Linked DNA regions of Homo sapiens: region 1 is linked to region 2. Evidence: fine-mapped expression QTL. Tissue or cell type: whole blood. Region 2 holds a variant in brackets; the other region holds the start of a gene. All regions are shown on one strand. Distances are from middle to middle.

The links. PIP is the estimated chance that this variant, and not a neighbour inherited with it, causes the effect.
Region 1: it holds the start of ESYT2, and the variant in region 2 is fine-mapped to the expression of ESYT2 in whole blood (TOPMed, PIP above 0.99).

What each region holds. Positions count from the first base shown.
Region 1 is chr7:158,824,710-158,832,811 of GRCh38, reverse strand. ESYT2 (extended synaptotagmin 2) reads left to right here and starts at 3,303. Exons shown (of 23, transcript NM_001367773.1): 1 at 3,303-3,723. The coding sequence starts at 3,394. RefSeq lists enhancers at 2,340-2,449, 4,460-4,529 and silencers at 2,760-3,489, 3,580-3,679, 3,730-3,919, 4,010-4,059, 4,140-4,339.
Region 2 is chr7:158,632,996-158,641,100 of GRCh38, reverse strand. The region is part of intron 27 of NCAPG2 (non-SMC condensin II complex subunit G2); the gene reads left to right. Among named protein-coding and RNA genes, the nearest start is that of MIR5707, 45 kb to the right of the region's middle. The variant A/G (reference allele first, on the strand shown) is at 4,085.

The sequences.
Region 1 (8,102 bases), 190 kb before region 2:
TCTCATTCCTCATCAAATCTCCACCTACCACCCTGAGCCTCCATTGATAGCTCACTCCTGCAACAACCCCACTACAGTGATTGGTAAATGGTTATTTCCATTCTCACTCCTGCAACAACCCCACTACAGTGATTGGTAAATGGTTATTTCCATTCTCATAATTCCTTCTCCATTTATGAGTTCACATTCTACTGTAAAGAAGAACCTCCCCTTCTCCACTATTATTTTCCCTGCATTCATCACTGGTTTGTTGATCTACATCAGTGTGGACTCAACTCATGCGTTTCTATTTTGCTCACTCAGTGGTAATCTGCCAATATCATTCTTTGTTTTGTTGCTCAAATTGTCCTAGATTTCGCCAGCAAGAACTCCCTCCAACTACTTTCCATGTCCTTTGATCTCCTGTCAATCTTTGAGCACTTCTTCACTTCCTTGAACAACAAAATTATTCCAGGATCATCTTGTACTTCCACTCCAGCCCTGAAATTAACCATTTCTCCAAAGAGCCCTGATTCCTTTTGTTGGAAAACCTTATTTAGAAGATAAGATCTGGGGGCTAGCTGTGATCACTGGTACTGGGGTACCATTGCATCTAGATACTCAGCAGACAGAACTAGAAACTATTTCTGTGTTTATATGCACATATACCTACACATGTGTGCACACACATACAGCTATCTTTATATCTATCTGTATATACATATTTTAAAAAAATGAGTTCATACTACCACTTCCAGTTCCAATCCAATCCCTCAGTGTTCTTTTTAGCCTTCCCTCTTCCATGTTTTTACCTTCTCCAACAGCAAGAAACCTGGCTTTCACTGTCCCCAGTATATTTAATTTGCTGGTATAACCTCCAAATTGAAGAGATGCAGAGCACGTGCTCCCACCCTCCATAACGAGACGTATTTAGAGGTGTGGGGGAGGACCCAAAAGCAGGAAGAGTTGAACCTAAGCACAAGATAGCACTTTCCTCTGAAACCAGGAAGGCTGGAACTTCGCAGCTGTGCACCGGAGCACTCGGAATGACACTCCAGAGAAAGCAGCACTTCTCCTTGTCTACAAGAAGGAAAGGATGGAGGGGTCATGAAAGGTCACAGGAGATTGAGGGGTATAATATTAGCAAAAATCTAAGAGCCGAGCTGGACCTGCAGTCAGACCAGACACCTGTAAGACTGAGCTGTGGCAGAGCCTTAGGATCTGCTTTCTGCAGGCAATTAACCACAGGGAGGGGCTGGAAACCCGGGGCTCACACAGAGGGAAGCTGAGGACACTTGGGCTGACTGGTATGCAACATGGAAACTTCTCTTCAATCTAGTTTACATCCTTGGGTCAACCACTGGATGGCACATGGCACAGGATTTTTTTTTTTTTCTTGAGACGTAGTCTTGCTCTGTCGCCCAGGCTGGAGTGCAGTGGTGCGATCTCGACTCACTGCAACCTCCGCCTCCCGGGTTCAAGTAATTCTCCTGCCTCAGCCTCCCGAGTAGCTGGGACTCCAGGTGCGCGCCGCCATGCGCGGCTAATTTTTTGTTATTTTTAGTAGAGACGGGGTTTCACCATGTTGGCCAGGATGGTCTTGATCTCCTGACCTCGTGATCTGCCCTCCTCGGCCTCCCAAAGTGCTGGGATTACAGAATTTTTTACGTGGCTTATGTTTATGCAAGTCTTTGTAGGATGTGATCCTACAATTTTCCAGTAGAGGAAAGCTGCAAAAGAAAGGCTCAGGCTCCTTTCTGTGTCAACAAAGCAATTACTTGCTTTTGTGTTGAGGCTTAGTTTTGAATGAAAGGTGGTGTTAGGAGCATTAACCGGTTGCATATTTACAATCTACATAATATAATTTGTTGCTGCAGCAAACCAGGGACTGTGAAGAGTAAGAAAAGGGAAACCACTTCCATTCCTTGCTTGGGGTTTACTGCCCTTGCCTGGAGTTGAGAGTTTAGACTCTGCAATGTTTTACATATGTGATATAATCTCCACATACATATGCACACAAAATTATGAAGACGCAGGAACGAGGGGAGACAGATTCCTATGTAAAGGTGACCCTGCTTCTTCTGGGCATTTGTTTATTCATTCAGTACCTGCCAGTGCCCTACTCTGTTACAAATTCAGTAAAAATTTCCTTGGAATTCACTGAATATGCTCAAAAACAGTCAAGTAGGATGTTCTTTGCTACTGTTTGGCTTGGAGTTTCCTTGAAAGAAACTACAGAACAAATATAATTAACTCGATTGAATTCACTGGAAAGTAAAGTGATCAATAGTTGTGTTTTTGAGTTAACTGAAAAGTGACCTCAGGAATCACAGGAAAGGCCCAAAATTAGTCGTTTGAAACAGCTATTCATAGTTGGCCACAATATTAACACCTTCGGCGAAGCTGCGTGGTGCCCGGGGTGGAGTTCCCGAGTGTCAACAGCGTCCCTTGGGCGCTTGCGGTGGTCTTTGCCCGGCACTACCAGACCCCTCAGGGAGGACTTTTGGGATTAAAGGCATCTTAAAAGCCAACTGAACTGTGTGAGAGTTGTCAAGGTCACAACGGAGTCGTTTGTGTTTAAAACCCTGACAAGCAGGGTGGGAAGGGCCCCAGAGGCAGCGTTCTCACGCCGGAATGCCCGATAACAAGACCGTCCCGAGAGACTCCGCAAAAGCCACAACCTTGCACACTGGCTAGGCAACCTCACACCGAAAAATACCGGAGGACTCCCGCCAGCGGCGCCCGTCCGACCTCCGGCGGGCGGCGCCCTCTCACCCGTCCTCCTGGCCGCAAAATGACCGCAAACAGGGACGCCGCCCTCTCATCCCACCGCCACCCCGGCTGCGCTCAGCGGCCGCGCACCCCCACGTTTGCCAGCAGCTCCCAGAGGCGGTCAGCCTTTGGGTTTGACGACGGCAACTTCCCGGGCCTCGGCGAGCGCAGCCACGCACCCGGAAGCCGCCTCGGGGCGCGACGCCGAGCCAAAACCGCCCGCGGGCTCCGAGGCCACAGGCAAGTGGGGAGGGTGCCCCGTGGGGCTCGAGGGGACGCAGGCACGCCCAGCCCACGCACCGAGCACTCTCCTTTCCCGTCCCCGGCTCCCGCCAGCCGAGACACAACGCTCGCGTGATGACGTCGTGCGCCTGCCCGGCCCACTCCAGTAGTCTCCGACCCGGCCCACGGCCCGCCCCGCGCGATGACGTCAGTATCCACCCCGCCCGCTCCCGGTGACGTGCCAGCCCCAGGCCCACGCCGCTCCCGCCCCGCGTGATGACGCCACCGTCCCGGGCGGAGGCGGGCGTGCGGCGGAGCCGCGTCCCCTCAGAGGGGCGCTGGCGCGGGGCTGAGCCGCCCGGGATCAGCGCGAGCACCCAGCCCGCCTCGGCCGGGAGGGCAGCGCGGCACTGCGGGGCGATGAGCGGCGCCCGGGGCGAGGGCCCGGAGGCGGGCGCCGGCGGGGCTGGGGGCCGCGCGGCGCCTGAGAACCCCGGGGGCGTGCTGAGCGTGGAGCTGCCCGGGCTGCTGGCGCAGCTGGCGCGGAGCTTCGCGCTGCTGCTGCCCGTGTACGCGCTGGGCTACCTGGGGCTCAGCTTCAGCTGGGTTCTCCTCGCGCTCGCGCTGCTCGCCTGGTGTCGCCGCAGCCGCGGCCTCAAGGCCCTGCGCCTGTGCCGCGCGCTGGCGCTGCTGGAAGACGAGGAGCGCGTCGTGCGCCTGGGGGTGCGCGCCTGCGACCTGCCCGCCTGGGTGAGTGCAGACCCCTGCCCGTCCCGACCCCTGACCACCAGTCCCGATCTCCCCTCGTCCAGGCAGGCACTCCCCTCCCCGCGACCTGCCGCCTGGGTGAGTGCAGACCCCAGCCCTGCCCCGGCTCCCGCCTTCGTAGTCCCCCACCCACCCCGGTCCAGGCAGGCGCTTCCCTTCCGCCTGGGCGAGTGCAGACCCCAGCCCCGGCCCCCGGGCCGGTTCCTGCGACCTGCCAACCTAGGTGAGTGCAGACCCCGCCCCGCCCCCCGGCCCCGACTCCCAGCCTGCTGGCGACCTGCCCGCTAGGGCGAGTGCAGACCCCAGCCCCGCCCCGGCCTCCGGCCCACTCCCTGCGAACCTGTCCGCCTGGGGCCGCCGCCCGCTGCTCGCCGCTCCCGCCCTAGTCCTGAGTGCTCCGTGCCCTCCCTCCGTCCAAGTCGGGCGTCCCCTTCTCCGCTTCCCCGCCCGCCCAGGCTCCGGGTCCGGGGCGCGTCTGCCCTCGTGAAGCCTCCCCTCGCCGTCCCGCGCGGCTTTCTCGGAGACCCCTCTTCACAAAGCCCGCTTCCCTCCCCCGGCCTGCAGACCCCGAGCGCCAGCGGCAGGTACCGGGCTTGGCGCCCCCTCTTCGGCCGCGGCCCTGCCCGGAGCGCGCGCTTCCTCCTGGTGCCGCCCGCGGGGTCTCCTTAGGGGCCTGAGCGGCCGGTTCTGCTCTCAGAGCGCCCAGCGCGATTCTCGTGCGCATTCCCAAAGCCCTGCCGGCCTGGAAATGCTCCGGGTGGCTTCAGCTTTTCCTTCTCTCTGTTTTTTAAAAAACGTAATGACAGCTGGTGGGGGAGAAGTTAACTTTTTCTTCTACCGGGAGAAGACGCACTCGTGTCTTGGTTGTTTCTGACGCATTTCAAGGGCAGTAAGTGTCTCTCGAAAGATGTGGAGATATTAGATAATTGAAAGATTGTTTCAGTTTTTTTGCAAGTATAATTGTGAGACTGAGCATTTTTATATGGGATCGACCTGAATCCAGTGTGAATGTGTGTGTGTGTGGCAGGAAGTTTTGGAAGAGTTGCAGCAATAACAAGAGTCATGGTATTATTTTATTTTTAACCCGGCAGTTCTCTACCTCGTATATTTATGGACTATAGACACGAAGAGTTGGCTTCAAATCTTTTTCTTGTCATTCCCTAATTCTTTCTTAGCCATGACTTGGCTTCACAGTTTCACACTGCAAGAAAGGATTTTAATGATTCTTCCATTAGGCTTAATATAAACTTTGGGGTGAAGGTGACCAGCAGTGGGTTTCGGAAGGGTCATTTTCTCTTAGAGGAGAAAAGTCCCTGTTTCCAGTCATGAGACACCTGAGAAGTAAGGCATGACACAGATGGCAAACAAGAATTAGAAAGGAGGCGTGCCCAAGACAAGAAGAAGGTAGTAGATGCTACTTTGTGACGTCATATTGCAACTGGAGTAAGAATATAATGTAAGGAGCTTGGGAATGTACAGTTCTGCCGATGCGTGGTGAGCATGAGGGAGTCATATTTGGAGAACCAAGGTAACTGGCATGGTGCAGCTTTTAGCTAGCGGCGGGAAAAACCGAGGGGTGTGTAGAAAAAGGAAGTTAAGAGGAACCGAGGTGGGGAAAACTAAGAACAGAGGAGGTGCACTTTGGAAATGGAAAAGGACTTTAAAGTGACGTTTTGTGTCTATATTACACTAAGATGCATAATACTAAAAAGTAGCTAAAAACAGAGTCCATTAGCATCCATTGCTATGTTATATTGATAACATAGCAATGTTATCAGTGCTGAAATTTGCAGGAAGTGATGATGCTGACTTTCATAGATACTTGGTTATTGGCTAATATCAAATTTGCTTGTTAAAAATCTTTGTGAAACACAGATTTTCTTTTTCTTTTCTTTTTTTTTTTTTTTTGAGACAGAGCCTCTCCCTGTTGCCCAGGCTGGAGTGCAATGGCGTGATCTCGGCTCACTACAACCTCCGCCTCCAGGGTTCAAAAGATTCTCCTGCCTCAGCCTCCCGAGTAGCTGGGATTACAGGCGTGCACCATCACGCCCAGCTAATCTTTGTATTTTTAGTAGAAACAGGGTTTCACCATGTTGGCCAGGCTGGTCTCAAACTCCTGACCTTGTGTTCCGCCTGCCTTGGCCTCCCCAAGTGCAGGGATTACAGGCGTGAGCCACCGCGCCCGGCCACACAGACTGTACAGATGAAATTGCTGCCCTATTGAAGAACTGAAATTTTTTTTTTTTTTTTTGAGACGGAATCTCGCTCTGTTGCCAGGCTGAAGTGCAGTGGCACCATCTCAACTCACTGCAACCTCCGCCTCCCGGGTTCAAGCCATTCTCCTGCCTCAGCCTCCCGAATAGCTGGGACTACAGGCGCACACCACCACACCCAGTTAATTTTTGTATTTTTAGTAGAGACTGGGTTTCACCATGTTGGCCAGGATGGTCTCGATCTCTTGACCTCGTGATCCACCCGCCTCAGCCTCCTAAAGTGCTGGGATTACAGGTGTGAGCCACTGCGCCCAGCCTGAAATTCTTTAAAAAAAAAAAAAATACAAAAGTAATTTAGCCAAAGATTCTTTTCAAGTTTTTAATCTGTGTGACTTAAACTGATGAACTGTGGTGTTCACCTCATGAAGAATTTATATTTTCTCCAGAATGTTTTACTTGTTTATTCCAAATTTGTACTTGAGCTCATAATCCCACATGTGTAAACTTCAGTGTGCCTAGGATGCTTAAGACGCTTCTTGAAGGATTCACATGAAACTTGACAGTGATTATGTTGACAGTTTTAGAGAGATTTTAAAAATATCTTTTAAATTATACTTATGTATCTATTTTGTGATATTTATTAAAAGTGTAATATACTTTATTTTCATAATAAAACCAGCAGGTTGCATGGTCTCGAAGTGTGCCTGAAATTCTGCTGCGCGGCAGGGGTGGTGGGGGTGGTCAAAGCACATCAATAATAGAAGAAACTATGAATAAGAAAAGTTAAGATTTCAGTATTACTTGCACTTTGGGTTTGTTTTTGTTTTTTTTTTTTTCTAGAGATGAGTTCTTACCGCGTTGTCCAGGCTGGTCTCAAACTTTTGGCCTCGAGGCATCCTCCCACTTAGACTTCCTAAAGTGTGGGGATTACAGGTGTGAGCCACCATGCCTGGCCAATATTACTAGTACCTTGATTTTTACCATACATACATTGGTGCTTGGGGTTTCTGAACTTTGGACTGGTATTTTGCCTTGAACAAGATGTATCTGTACATCCCAAAGGCTGTACTTGTTTTCATAGTGTGTCGTTGACAACCGTGAATTCATGGCAGAGTGGAAACATAGGAAAACATGAATTAAGGAGATACTAATTTCCTCACCTCACCTTTGTATATATTCACTGACAGCTTTTCTTCTTACTGAGTAAAAACTGAAGCTGGATATGGAAATGAGATAAGAGTATTAATACTTTGAGAAACTATATGTACTGTTCCTGATTGAGGCTATTAGGATGTGACAGATGGCTCTCACTTAACTGTGATAATTCTGTAAGTTTGGTCCTACAGCTTTAATATAAACAGTGTTGTTATTCTTCACTTCTTTTCCCATGAACAGTTATGTTCCAACTGCTTAGGGGAAAGGCCTGGCAGGCTGGATGAATTGAGGACAGGGCTTTTTGTTGTTTAAGTGTCTACCCTGTGGTAATGGGCCCTGGACCATTAGACTACCCTGGGTGAAGAAGAGAAGATTTATTTATTTATTATTTCATTTATTTATTTATTTTTGAGACGGAGTCTCACTCTGTTGCCCAGGATGAAGGGCAGTGGCATGGTCTCGGCTCACCGCAACCTCTGCCTCCCGGGTTTAAGCGACTCTCCTGCCTCAGCCTCCCAAGTAGCTGGGAGTACAGGCGCCCGTCACCACGTCTGGCTAATTTTTGTGTTTTTAGTAGAGACAGGGTTTCACCATGTTGGCCAGGCTGGTCTCAAACTCCTGACCTCAGGTGATCCACCAGCCTTGGCCTCCCAAAGTGCTGGGATTACAGGCATGAACCACCGCGCCCAGCCTTTTTTGTTTTTTAAAGAGAGGCGGTTCTCGCTGTGTTCCCCAGGCTTGAACTCTTGGGCTCAACTCTTGGGCTCAAGCGAACCACCTACGTGAGTCTCCCAAGTAGCTGGGATTACAGTTGCATGCCACCATGCTCAGGGCTGTGAGGAAGATTCTTGAAGAGTTTTTATAGAGATTAATAAGGGCAATTTTTCATTACTATTTTTATTTATTTGAAAATATTATCTCTTCATAGGATAAAGTCTGACTCTATCCTGCTTTTACTATTGCCAATAAATGCTGATTGTATGGCTGCTATGG
Region 2 (8,105 bases):
GAGTTGGAATTTTTATTTGTTTTTATCTTTCTTAGTGGTTGCTTTAGAGTTGGAGTTTTCATTTATAACTAATCCACGTTTGCTTTCAGATGACACTATACCACTTTGCAGGTAGGGTGGTATATAATAACAAAATAATCCTAATCCTTGCCTCTCGTTCCTTGTATCATTGCTGTCATTCATTTTGCTAAGGTATAAGCAGACATAAGCATACATAATTGAATATATTGTTGCTATTATTATTTTGAACAAACTACATCTTAGGTCATTTAAGAATAAGAAAAATAAAAGTTTTTATTTACCTTCACTTACTCCTTCTTTGATGCTTCTCCTTTGTTTGTGTTGATCCAAATTCTGACCTATATTCTTTTCCTTCCCTCCAGAGAACTTCTTTTAATGCTTCTTTCAAGGCATGTCTACTGGCAACTAATTCTCTTAATTTTGGTTTGTCAGAGAGTCTTTTACTTCTACTTTATTTCTTTGCAGGGATAATGTTATGTAGTTTATAATTCTAGTTGATGAATTTTTTTCTCTCTGTACTTTATTTAATTTATTATTATTATTTTTTGAGACAGAGTCTTGCTCTGTTGCCTAGGGTGGAACGCAGTGGTGTGATCTCAGTTCACTGCAACCTCTGCCTCCTAAGTTCAAACGATTCTTGTACCTCAGCCTGCTGAGTAGCTGGTATACAGGCACATCGCCGCCACACCCAGCTCATTTTTGTATTAGTGGAGACAGGGCTTCACCATGTTGCCCAGGCTGGTCTCGAATTCTTGATCTCAAGTGATCTACTCGCCTCAGCTTCTCAAATTGCTGGGATTACTCCCCGTGCCCGGCCACTCTCTGTACTTTAAACATTTCGCTATACTCTCTTCTTGGCTCGTGTAGTATCTGAGAAATAGGATATAATTCTTTTTTGCTCCTCAGTAGATAAGGTGTATTTTTCCCTATCTGGTTTCTTTCAATACTTTTTCTTTGTTTGATTTTTCTGTAGGTTGAATATGATATGCCTAGGTGTAGTTTTCTTTTCTTTTTTTTTTTTTTTTTTGGCATTTATTCTATTCAGTATTCTATGAGCTTCCTGGATAAATTCTCAGTTATTATTGTCTGAATATTTCTTCTGTTCCTTTCTCTCTTCTGAAATTCTTATTATACATGTTAACACCTTTTACAGTTGTCTCACAGGTCTTGGATATTTCATTCTATCAAAACAGCTGCATTTTTGAATTCTGTTTGCTAATATTTTATTTGAGAATGTTTGCATTAGGTTTGAAATAAGATTAAATGGTTGTTGGTTGTTTTGTTTTGTAGTGTTTTGTTTTTGTTTTTTCAGTAGGACCTCTACCAGTTTTGCTCTCAGCATTAGTTGGTAACTTCTCCCTTTTCAGTGTTGTGGAGCAGTTTAAATCACATCTGATGCTGTGGAACAACATACCCCCAGAAATCTGGGATGACTTTTCCCTGTTTCTTCTATGTTAGTAGTTGGGTCTGATTTCCTATTACTGCCTGAATAAATTTTGGTAATTTACAATTTCTTGCATTGGTCTAGATTTTTAAATTTATTAACAAAATGGCTTGTGGTTTTTGTTTATTGATTTTAATAGAATAGAATTTACTCATTGAGATATACATATGGAAAAGAATGTAAATAATATGTGTACCACTGAATTAATTGTTATAAAATGCACTCACAAGCCAGGTGCGGTGGCTTACAGCTGTAATCCCAGCACTTTGGGAGGCCAAGGCAGGTGAATTGCTTGAGTCTAGGAGTTCGCAACCAGCCTGGGCAATGTGGCAAAACCCTGTCTCTACAAAAAATATAGAAATTAGTTGGATATTGTGGCACTCACCTGTGGTCCCAGCTACCCAAGAGGCTGAGGTGGGAGGATCACTTGAGCCCAGGAGGTTGATGCTGCAGTGAGCCGAGATCACGTCACTGCATTCCAGCCTGGGTGACAGAGTGAGACCCTGTCTTAAAAAAAAAAAAATTCAGTCACCACCTAAATCGAGGAATACACCTCCTGAACATGGTCCCTCTCTCCCTGTTTGAAGGTATCAGCCCACCCCAATACCTCAGTATAATTTTGGGCATTGTCCGGATGAAGAGCAAAGTGTGTGTGGTTTTATACTTGATATGAGGTTTATGTTTACTGTGGCTTTTAACACCATTTCTTTTTTGTCTTTTTTGATTGTACGTCTGAGACTGGCTCTGTGGCTCACACACAGCATTTGTGAGTGCTTGTGCATAGGAGTGTGTGTTTTAGAGAGGTGGAGTGCCACCTGATCAGTTCACGTTCGTTAATTGTGTTACCTCAACTTTTCTATGTTTTTACTGATTTTTTGTTACTTATTCTACAGAGACTTGTGTTAAATTTCTCATTATGCTTGTGAATTTGTCCAAGTATCATATTTAGGACTGCTTTTGCATTATATATTTTATGGCCCTGTTATTAGGTGCATATAAGTTTAGAACTGCTGTATGTTCTTGATTAATTGACCCTTTTATTTTAATAAAGGGTCTCTCTTTACTCCACTTTGTCAGGTACTGAGATAACAATGTTGGCTGGGCATGGTGGCTCGCGTCTGTAATCCCAACACTATGGGAGGCTAAGGTGGGTGGATTGCTTGAGCTCAGGGGTTCAAGACCAGTTTGAGCAACACAGCGAGACCTCATCTCTACAAAAAATACAAATATTAGACAGGTGTGGTAGCATGTGCCTATAGTCCCAGCTACATGGACAGCTGAGGTGGGAGGATTGCTTGAGGTGGAGGTTGCAGTGGGTTGAGATTGCGCCACCGCACTCCAGTCTTGGCAACAGAGCAAGACTTGTCTCAAAAGCAAACAAACAAAAAACAATGTTTTTCTGTGTGTTTGTCAGGTTCCAGGAGAAGACCAAAACCACGCAGTGATTCGGATAGGGAAAGCTCAGTGTCAGGGATTTTTTTGTTTGTTTTTGAGACAAGAGTCTCCCTCTGTTATGCAGGCTGTAGTGCAGTGGTGCGATCTTGGCTCACTGCAACCTTTGCCTCCCAGGTTCAAGTAATTCTTGTGCATCAGCCTCCCGAGTAGCTGGGATTACAGGCATGCGCCACCATGCCCGGCTAATTTTTGTATTTTTAGTAGAGACGGAGTTTCACCATGTTGGCCAGGCTGGTCTTGAACTCCTGGCCTCAAGTGATCCGCCCGCCTCGGCCTCCCAAAGTGCTGGGATTACAGGGGTGAGCCACCGTGCCCAGCCAAGTGTCAGGGATTTTTATAGGGAGTTGGCACGATGGGTTATTGGCTAGTGAGAGTTAAAGAGAACTCTAGAGAATACAGGACTAGCAGATGAAGAGAACACCTCCAACCCTAGGTGAGCGCCGCCAAGGAAGGAGCCCCCACCCGGACAGGGAGACCTGGCTTCCTACGTGGAAGAAATTGTTAGCGGCCTTCTGTGGGACCTGAGGACGTCCACTCACCTGGGTGGGTGGTGGGCCGGGGGGATGTGGAGCCATCGCAGGGGAGGTGCTGGGGAGCTGCTGGAGCCGGAGCTGGAAAGCCTACTCTCTTGAGTCCCACAGGCTCCTGTGTGTGGCTCGGATGGGGTGGGGGCTTGTGGGGTAGTTGTCTGGTGTGCTGCTTGTGCTGTCAGAGTCTGCTGGAGAAAGGGGGGCCTTACGGAAACCTGGAGAAAGTCCCCTCCTTCCCCAGTGACCTTCCAGCACCCCACGGTGATGGGACGTTGAACTGGGCACTAAAGCAGGTGGGTGGGTTTGGGCTCCTAGCGACTGAGTGAATGAAATGCATTCAATTATGTACTTTATTCTAAAAATGATTGAGTGTCCACTATGCTAGTTTTAATCAGGTTAGACTTTGCAACTTTATATTTTAAGAAGAAACCCTCTCAGCACTTTGGGAGGCCAAGGCAGGTGGATCACGAGGTCAGGAGATCGAGACCATCCTGGCTAACACGGTGAAACCCCGTCTCTACTAAAAATATAAAAAATTAGCCGGGCATGGTGGCGGGCGCCTGTAGTCCCAGCTGCTCGGGAGGCTGAGGCAGGAGAATGGCATGAACCCGGGAGGCGGAACTTGCAGTGAGCC[A/G]AGATCACACCACTGCATTCCAGCCTGGGTGACAGAGCAGGGCTCCGTCTCAAAAAAAAAAGAAGAAGAAGAAGAGGAAACCCAATAGACTATTGGCCTTAGGAGCTTGTTTTTAGGGCAGTGGTCTGATTTGGGGATGACAGAGGAGCACTTGTCCATTTCAGAAAATAAGTGGCAATGATGTAAATGGTCCATCAGGCACAAATATTAAACAAGATGACCAGAATTACCAACTGTAAGAATGTTAAATTGTTTTCACAGGATGTAGTAACAACCTCAAAAGTCTAAGCATTTTTCTTTATTAGAAATAATGTTGGCCGGGCACAGTGGCTTATGCCTGTAATCCCAGCACTTTGGGAGGCTGAGGCAGGCAGATCACCTGAGGTCGGGAGTTCAAGTCCAGCCTGACCAACATGGAGAAACCCCGTCTCTACTAAAAGTACAAAAATTAGCTGGGTATGGTGGCACATGCCTGTAATCTCAGCTACTTGGGAGGCTGAGGCAGGAGAATCACTTGAACCCGGAAGGCAGAGGTTGCGGTGAGCCCAGATCGAGCCATTGCACTCCAGCCTGGGCATTAAGAGTGAAACTCCATCTCAAAAAAAAAAAAAAAAGAAAAAAAGAAATAATGTTGCCAAGGAAGGCTTATTTGGATATAGAATAGTGTATACTATTCTGAAGATGAAAGGGAAGAGGAACATTGGTTTCTCACTAGGAATGCCTTCCATTTCCACTTATACTTAGTTTCAGGCTAACTACTTGAATTATGTTAGTTACATTGAGAGAAGAAAAGACCTGAGAAATTCAGAACTTACAATGTGGAAAAGGACATGAACAGAACACTGGGGATGGAGCGTTTTGTTTCTCCATTATTCACCTGCATGCCATCCCCTCTACTAAGATGATACACAGATGAAAAAAAGAGCTCCTCCCTTTAAGAAGGAAACATCCTAGAAAATAAATAGGTCAGGACTGTGAAATATTGGCTTCTTACTTAAATATGCAAGAAGCAAACTATAGAAAAACCAGTGTCTAAAAAAATCAATCTGACAAATTGATGAAACAAGAAAAATCAATCTAACGGAAGATAAACAATTAAGATTTAAGACTGTATTTTAAAATATTATTGATTTAACGTTGGACTAGAGACATTAAAGCAAGTAAACATCTTTAAGAATCTGGGAACCCCTTGCTCCAATTAATATTTTAGGCAGTGGAGCTTGATTTAAAAGTGCACGTTTTCTTAACAACTAATCTAGTTTTCAGGGCTAGTATTCTGTTGACTGGTCTGTCTTTTGGGTGCTAAATAAAAATCGGCATCTCATTGCATTTTAATTGCCTCATCCGATATAGCATATTGTAAACTGGACATTTTCTGAGGAGAAACAACATGCATTTGCCCATGCACTGGTGCATTTAAATGTCAAGTATGTTAAATTTATTGCTTTCATAAATTGTATCGATAGTAATAAATTTGTAATTTGAAATAAATTACAAATATAAATAATATATTTCTTAAGGTTTGTGTTACCTCATGAATTTTCCCCACTAATCATATTACAAGCAAATTACTTGCCAATATTAATTGTGCCTCTACTTGCAGGCAACGTTAATAGTAAAATAATGTAGGTGCCAACATTAAACCTTGAAGGGAAAGAGTACTCCCTGAAAATGGCCTCTCTTTTGTTATCAGGTATTGATAAATGAATATCAATTCATTTTATTCTGCTTTAATTTTAACAGTCTTTTTTTTTAAACGAATTTGAGGCTGGATGCTTTTTATAGCTTATTTAGTGGTATGCTTCCATCATCCATACCCAATGAAATTGGTGTGGATAATTTAAAAGTATTCATGTGTAAAACCACCCTTTAATAAATACAGACACTGTCTTTTTATCTTACGGTTTTTCTCAAAAAATTGATTCTGCTGTGTTTCTTGTGGCTGTGATCACCAACATGTGATCCTAACCTGACATAGAAGGAAAGGTGGCGAAGTTTTGAGTCCTCGTGTTTGACACATTTTACAGACGTTAGTGCTGAGGGGACTTGCACATGGTCTGGTCTGTGTGTCTTGTTACATATCAGGAGAACCCTGGCCCAGGGAGCTTTTTGTCTAAGCTTTTTGTCACTGTCCCTTCCAACTTTAAAATTCCTTCATTTTGTTTTCTTCATTTGTTCTTTAGTAGTTCTTATTTCTCTGATTTACATAGTGTGTTCAATTCTTGCTTCAGGTAATAGAAGAATGAGTAAATTTGTATTGCAGTAGTGTTCCAGTAGCAGGAGAAAAATGGCCTGGGTTTAAACCCAGACTGCCCTTCCCATCTGAGTGGTCATGGGCAGTTTGCTTTACCACTTTTGCCTCAGTTAGCTTATCTGTTACAGGATAACGATAAAGAGTCATTCTTGTTGCCAGTCTAGACTTAGGTCAGTGTAAGTAGCTCTTTACTACCTGGTAAATGAGAACACTTGGCCCTCCGTATCCATGGGTTCCACGTTCGTAAATCCAACCAACCATAGTTTGACAATATTTGGGACAAAAATGGATGGTTGTGCCTGTACTGAATATGAACAGACTTTTCCTTGTCATTATTCCCTAATATAATATAACAGTATAGGATAAACAATATAGTATATAGTATAACAACTATTAGTATAGTATAACAATATAGACGATATAGTATATAGACAATATAGTATAACAATTATTACCATAGCATTTACCTTGTATTAGGTATTATAAGTAGTCTAGAGATGATTTAAAGCATACAGGAGGATGTGGGTAGACTATATGCAAACACTATACCAGGGACTTGAACATCTGTGGATTTTAGTATCTGGGGGGTCCTGGAACACATCTCCCACAGATAGTGAGGGTTAACTGTACTTTTAACGTAACATTTTTCTCTAAAGTATTTTTAAATTCATGTTCACTTAAGGAGACAATATTATTTTTGAGTAATTAAAAATTAATTTTAGGCCAGGTATGGTGTCTGTAATTCCATCACTTTGGGAGGCTGAGGCGGGCAGATTGCTTAAGCTGAGTTCACTACTAGACTGGGTAACATGGTGAAACCCCATCTCTACAAAAAATACAAAAAAATCTGCTGGGTGTGGTGGTGTGCACCATAGTCCCAGCTACTTGGGAGGGTGAGCTGGGAGGATTGCTTGAGCCCGAGAGGTCAAGGCTGCAGTGAGCTGTGACCTCACTGCTGCACTTCAGCCTGGGTGACAGAGCGTGACCCTGTCTCAAAAAAAAAAATTAATTTTAGATTTTGGAGGGTTCATGACTTCCTGGGCCTGTTCTCCTCTGTCTTGCCTCTGGCTGCACTGCTGCTGAGCCAGGCAGTTGCTGGGCTGACAGGTGGGCGGAACCTGGTCTGTGGACAGAGAGCACTCTCTTCTCCTTGGGGGACTCAGGGAATGGGCAGGAGACCCTGAGGCAGCAGGTCCAGTAGAGGCCCAGCGAGGCTGGGAGAGTGAAGGGGCTGTGGGGCACCCAGAGTCTCCTGTGTCGCTGCATGGCAGCCTCCACATAGCTGTGCCCTCACCCCTGGTTCAACACAGGCAGAAATAACCACACAGAGGGTGGCCCAGGCGCTTCCAGAGTGATAGTGGTGGGTGAGTAATAAGAGTCTTTGAAGAAGAGTCAACTGTAACCCCGAAAGGACAGTCTAGAGCTCAAGTGTCACAGACACACTACAGAGATGGTTCCTGTGATAGTCAAATTCCAGAAAGGTCAATTTGGAGAGATGTCTCAGAACATAGACCATAAATACTCACGAGGAGAGGTCACGAGGGTGGGGATAGACTTGGGGGAAAAGGCCCGAGAGACCTAACAGCAAGGAGAAGCAGTGATTCAACAACGATAGGAAAAAATTCCCCAGAGCTTAAAGAAATATATGCAGATTCCCTTTTTTCTTTCACTACATTCTGGATTGATGGAAAAAAAAAATCACAGCTAAATAATTATGGATAAGATTCCTAAATTCCAGGAATAAAGAGAAAATCTTAAAATTTTTCT